Regions from separate parts of the Homo sapiens genome. Here region 2 is linked to region 1. The links come from fine-mapping of genetic effects on gene expression. A gene starts in region 1. The other region holds a variant in brackets. All regions are shown on one strand. Distances are between the middles of the regions. Region 1 holds the start of PRR36 (proline rich 36). Region 2 overlaps LRRC8E (leucine rich repeat containing 8 VRAC subunit E).

Region 1 (2,900 bases):
ACTCTGTCGCCCAGGCTGAAGTGCAGTGGCGCAATCTCGGCTCACTGTAACCTCCGCCTCCCGGGTTCAAGCGATTCTCCTGCCTCAGCCTCTCGAGTAGCTGGGATTACAGGTGCTCGCCAGCATGCCCGGCTAATTTTTGTATTTTTTGGTAGAGACAGGGTTTCGCCATGTTGGCCAGACTGGTCTCGAACTCCTGAGCTCAAGTGATCCGCCCGCCTCAGCCTCCCAAAGCAGTGGGATTACAGGTGTGAGCCACCGCGCCCGGCCTTATGCACTTGTTTTGACACCTGCTAGGTCGACAGAACCTTGTCCCCCGGAAGCCCAGCTCTGCCAGGAAGTCTGGGCTGACTTGACATCCCGTTAGCTGGGAGGGTGTGGAGGGTGGGCGTGCTCTACCCTGCAGACGGCTGGGTCACCTCTCACAGAATATACTGTGTCTCCTGTCGCTCTCCCTCCTATTCCTTTCTTTATCTTCCCCAAAATCTGGGGTCTACCTTGCATCCTGAAATTCCCAGGGCAGCATTCTCTTAGCAGTCCCTCGACCCCCCAACCAGATAAGGGGTTTCCTGGCGTCTGGGGAACACCTTCGGGTGTGGGGCGGAGGGCGGCTGCCCCCCAGAGACCCTGGGCGGCCTAGCTTTCGCAGACGCGAAGGACTGGATAGTGCCAGGGCCACCGAGCGGCCGGATTGGTGTGTGGGCCAGAGGCGCGGTGGTCCCGCCTCCTGGTTGCCAGGGCCCAGCCTATCCGCGTCCAGGCGGTCCTTGGTGCCAGGTGGTTGTGGTGGGGGTCGGGGCAGGTGTATGTGTTGGGAAGGACAGTGGAGGACCCCAGGGATTTGCTCCCCCAGTCCCAACCGTTGACTATCTGGGTTCCTCAGGCGCAGCTGGGGAAACAGGCTTCCCCCGGACCGCAGAGAAGCCACCCTTCTCTCCAAAGCGCGCTTCTCCCCCATCCCCCTCGGCGCGCTTCCGCCGGCCGCGCTCCCGGGTCCGGATCGAGCGCGCGCCCCCGGCTCTCCCGCCCGCGGCCGAGGGGCGGGACCGGCTCGGCTCCCCCGGCGCCGCAGCCCGCAGCCCCCTCCCCTCGCCTCCTCGCCGCTGGCGGCCACCGCGTCGCTCCGGCCCGGGCCCCACCCCAGGCGACTCTGTGAGGAGCGGCCGGAGGCCGGAGGCGGAGGTGAGCGCGACGCGAGCAGGTGGAGAGGCTGGGCGCGGGCCAGGCCCGGCTGGGGGAGGGGTCGGGCCCGGGACGCGGCTCTTTGTCTCCCGGAGCCCGTTCGCGGGCAGCGGGGCCGCTCTGCCTCCCGGCAGGTGCAGGCATCCCTCGGGGAGGCCAGGGGAGGCCGATGGGGGCTGGCGGGGAGACCCGGGCGTGCGCTCCGGGTCTGGAGGGATGCGACATCCTGAGCCCGTGGCAGTCCCCCGCTCTCGAGGCTGGCGGTCTGAGTCCCTGAAGGGGCAAGGGGCAGGGGCGTGGAGATCGGTCCTGAATTGGAGCCGAGGCGGGGGAGGCGGTGGGCTGGGGCGGGCAGGGCCTCTTCGCTTTAGGGAAAAGCGGTGGGGGGTGGGACTTGGGGACAGCGAGGAGCAGTGGGGCTGGCGAGTGGGTGTAGGTGCGTGGGAGCCGAGCGGATGGAAGCCGAGGCCGAGGTTTGAGTGTCCATGGGTGGCGATGCTGCGAAAGGGCAGTGAGGTAGCAGGGTCCAGGTCTCTGGAGGCGGCGTAGCTGTCCAGAACCTGGGATGCGGACCGGTTTGTCTCTTCAGGTGCAAGATGGACAACAAGAGAGACAAGGCGAAGGCAGGGGCCGCCGCGCGGACGCCGGCTGCTCGCGCTCCTGGACTTCTGACCCCCAGGCCCCCAGGCTCTCCTCGACCCCCTCCCCCAGTAACTCCCGCAGCCCTCCGAGTTCTGGGAGCTGCGGGAGCAGTGGGGCGAAAGCCTCTGGCAGAGCGAGCGGGGGGCATCGGCGGGGCCACTATTCCCGAGTCTGCTCCCCGAGCGGGACCAACGCGGAGTGCTGGGACAAGTTCCCGAAACCCTGGTACCCCAGCCTCCTTCCTCAGCTCCGCCCCCATCTTCCCTCCCCCTTCCAATACCTGTCCAGTCTCACCTCCACTGCCACCTCTCCGGGGCACCTGTGACTCGGCCTTCTCCCCGCAGCCTCCAGGCCCCCAGCCTCTGGGAGAGGGGAGAGAGCTCCTCCTGCCAAGAACACCAGCCCAGGCCCTGTTTCTAGCCCAGGGCGTGCCAGCGGGACCACCAGGTAACCTGCTCCCTCTCCCCCAGTCTCCTAAGCCAGGGTTAGCGTCACAGAGTCTGGAACCTTTTATTTTACACGAGTTGGGGCGCGGGAGCACTTGCAGGTCACTGGGCACAAATTGGGTGAAAGCCATTATTGGTCCTCAGAGAGGGCACATGCCCATTTCACAGATGGGAAAATAGAGACTTGGGAAGCCAAACAAAGACCTAGGCCTGAGCGTGGCCCCTTCTGTCTCCAGGCCAGGCCCTCTTGGCCAGAAGGGACTCCGGATCTCAGCGGAGGAAACTGTGGCCAGAGGAAAAGCTACAGAGGCTCCCAAAAGGAGTGCCCTCAGCGCTGGGGCACGGAGAGGTACGTGACCTGGAGAAGAGTGGGGTTCCTGGGCAGCAAGGGGAGCCGCCTCAGAGGTATCGGTGACCCTTGGCCTTCTACTTTTTCTCCAGACACTTCCGGGCCTACCCCAGGAACCCCGTCCCCGGCCATGGCCCGTCGGTCCCGGGCTGCGGGCACCGAGGTGGGGCTCCCCCGGCCAGCTCCGAGTGCCCGGCCACGGCCCCCGACAGAGGGCCCCCGGAAATCAGTGAGCAGCGCCTCGGAGCACAGTACCACCGAGCCAAGCCCGGCTGCCAGGA
Region 2 (2,832 bases), 24 kb before region 1:
ATGCGGAACTTCTTCACCTTCTCAAACAGGGCTTTGGCTTGCTCACCCTCCTTCTTGTCCAACAGGGTGACAACTGGAGGCTCGGTCACCACCTTCTCCGGTTCCGCCAGCACTTTCTCCTTCTCACCCTCCCCTGCCTTCCCCGGCCCGGTCCCTGCCATGGCCACTATGGTGGCCGCAGCCCGTTCGGTGGCTGCTGGGCCCTTCTGGTTCTCCCCGGAGACCTCGGATAGGGCCCTGGTGGTCCATGGAGAGTCGAAACACTTGCCCAGGATGGAGATGAAGTGTTCAATCTTGGAGCTGGTGCCAGGGAACTTGAACCAGAAACTGGTGCAGACCATGAAGATGAGTGTGTGAATGACCACGAGGTAAGGGAAGTACTTGGCATACCAGTGCAGGGCCGTCTCATAACACAGCTGGTTAATAAAGCTGTATTGCTGCAGGTCCAAATTGTTCTTAAGGCCTTTAACCTCCTGCAGGGCCCCAATCTGCTCAGGGATCCCCCGAGGCAGCAATTGCTGGCACGGGGCCTCTGATAAGTTCTCCTGGAGCTCATGATTGGGTAGACAGATGATCTTGTCCTGTGTCACCTGAGGAGCAAAAGAGAATGAGGGCTGTAATCCTAGCACTTTGGGAGGCCAAGGCGAGTGGATCACTTTAGGTCAGGAGTTCGAGACCAGCCTGGCCAACGTGGTGAAACCCTGTCTCTACTAAAAATACAAAATTAGCCGGGCATGGTGGTGGGCACCTGTAATCCCAGCTACTCGGGAGGCTGAGGCAGGAGAATCGCTTGAACCCGGAAGATGGAGGTTGCAGTGAGCCGAGATCGCGCCATTGTACTCCAGCCTGGGTGACAGAGTGAGCCTCTGTCTCAAAAATAAATTAATTTAAAAAAGAGAGAAAATGAGGGGGATGGGGAAAAAGCAGGCTGAAGGTGGGAGACCCCCCGCACCCCCCATCTCTGACTGTTGCCAGCCAGCTGTGATTTTGGAAGAGTTTTGCTAAACCTCTAAGCACTGTTTTTTTTTTTTTTGGTTTTTTTTTTTGAGACAAGAGTCTCGCTCTGTCAGGCTGTGTGCAGTGGTGCAATCTTGGCTCATTGCAACCTTCCCCTCCTGGTTCAAGCAATTCTCCTGCCTCAGCCTGCTGAGTAGCCGGGGCTACAAGCACGCACTACCACGCCTAGCTAATTTTTGTATTTTTAGTAGAGATGGGGTTTCACCATGTTGGCCAGGCTGCTCTCGAACTCCTGGCCTCAAGTGATCCCCTGCCTCAGCTTCCCAAAGTGCTGGGATTACAGGAATGAGCCACCACAACTGACAAAGCACTGGTCTTTGTCTGAGAAAAGGAGCTGGGTTGAATCGTGTCCCCACAAAAGATGTTGAAGTCCCAACTCCGAATCCTTAGAATGTGGTATTATTTGAGCTGGGTCAGGCGGCTCCTGTTTGGTAATAGGGTCTTTGCAGAGGTAGTCAAGACAAAGCCAGTAGGGTGGGCCCAGTATGACTGCGCCTTAGAGAAAGGGGAAACATAGACACAGAGACAGACACAAAGACAGAAGATGACGTGAGGATACAGGGAGAGGCTGGGTGCGGTGGCTCAGGCTTGTAATCCCAGTGATT[T/C]GGGAGGCAGTGGGAGGGGGGGCCAAGCGGGGGTGGTAGAGGAGGATTGCTTGAGGCCAGGAGTACAAGGTTACAGTGAGCTATTATTGCGCCACTGCACTCCAGCCTAGGTGACAGAGCTTGCTTAAAAAAAAAAAAAAAAAACTGTCTCGACCAGGCGCAGTGGCTCATGCCTGTAATCCCAGCACTTTGGGAGACAGAGGCAGGCTGATCCTGATCACGAGGTCAGGAGTTCAAGACCAGCCTGGCCAACATACTGAAACCACGTCTCTACTAAAAATACAAAAAAATATTAGCCGGGCGTGGTGGCACACGCCTGTAATCCCAGCTACTTGGGAGGCTAAGCCAGGAGAATTGTTGGAACCCGGGAGGCGGAGGTTGCAGTGAGCCGAGATCGCACCACTGCATGCCAGCCTGGGCGACAGAGGGAGACTCTGTCTAAAAAAAAAAGAAAAAGAAAAAGAAAAATACTGGGAGAATGTCATCTACAAGCCAAGGAACTCTTGGAGCTGCAAAAATCTAGGAGGGAAGCTTGGAAGATTCTCCCTCACTGACAACTGACGCCTTGATCTCAGACTTCTGGCCTCCAGAACCAGACCCAGAAGAGGAAACATTTCTGGTTATTTAAGCCACTCAATCCCTGCTACTTTGTTACAACAGAAGTAACAAACTCATATAGCAACTGCAGTCCTTTCCAGATTCTAGGGATAAAACTGAGCATTGTGAAAATATGGGGCTGGACACAGTGGCTCACACCTGTAATCCCAGCACTTTGGGAGGCCGAGGTGGGAGGATGGCTTGAGGCCCGGAGTCCGAGACAAGCCTGGGCAACATAGCAAGACCCCTGTGTCAACAAGAAATTTAAAAATTAGCTGGACGTGGTGGTGTGTGCCTGTAATCCCAGCTACTCTGGAGGCTGAGGCGGGAAGATCACTTGAGTCCAGGAGTTCAAGGCTGCAGTGAGCTGTGATCATGCCACTGCACTCCAACCTGGATGACAGAATGAGACCGTGTTTCTTTATTTTAATTTTCAATTATTTTATTTTATTTTTTTTAAGATGGAGTCTCGTTCTGTCACCCAGGCTGGAGTGCAGTGGCATGATCTCGGCTCACTGCAACCTCCACCTCCCAGGTTCAAGCAATTTTCCTGCCTCAGCCTTCCAAGTAGCTGGGATTACAGGTGTCCACCACCATGCCTGGCTAATATTTG

What was found. PIP is the estimated chance that this variant, and not a neighbour inherited with it, causes the effect.
Region 2: its variant is the best candidate, but not a certain one, in a credible set for the expression of PRR36 in nasal epithelium (TOPMed, PIP 0.52).

What each region holds. Positions count from the first base shown.
Region 1 is chr19:7,872,568-7,875,467 of GRCh38, reverse strand. It overlaps PRR36 (proline rich 36), which reads left to right and starts at 1,078. Exons shown (of 6, transcript NM_001190467.2): 1 at 1,078-1,182; 2 at 1,772-2,049; 3 at 2,169-2,271; 4 at 2,507-2,619; 5 at 2,712-2,900. The coding sequence starts at 1,779. RefSeq lists an enhancer at 1,360-1,876.
Region 2 is chr19:7,896,419-7,899,250 of GRCh38, reverse strand. It overlaps LRRC8E (leucine rich repeat containing 8 VRAC subunit E), which reads right to left. Exons shown (of 3, transcript NM_025061.6): 3 at 1-590. Among named protein-coding and RNA genes, the nearest start is that of MAP2K7, 6.0 kb to the left of the region's middle. The variant T/C (reference allele first, on the strand shown) is at 1,623.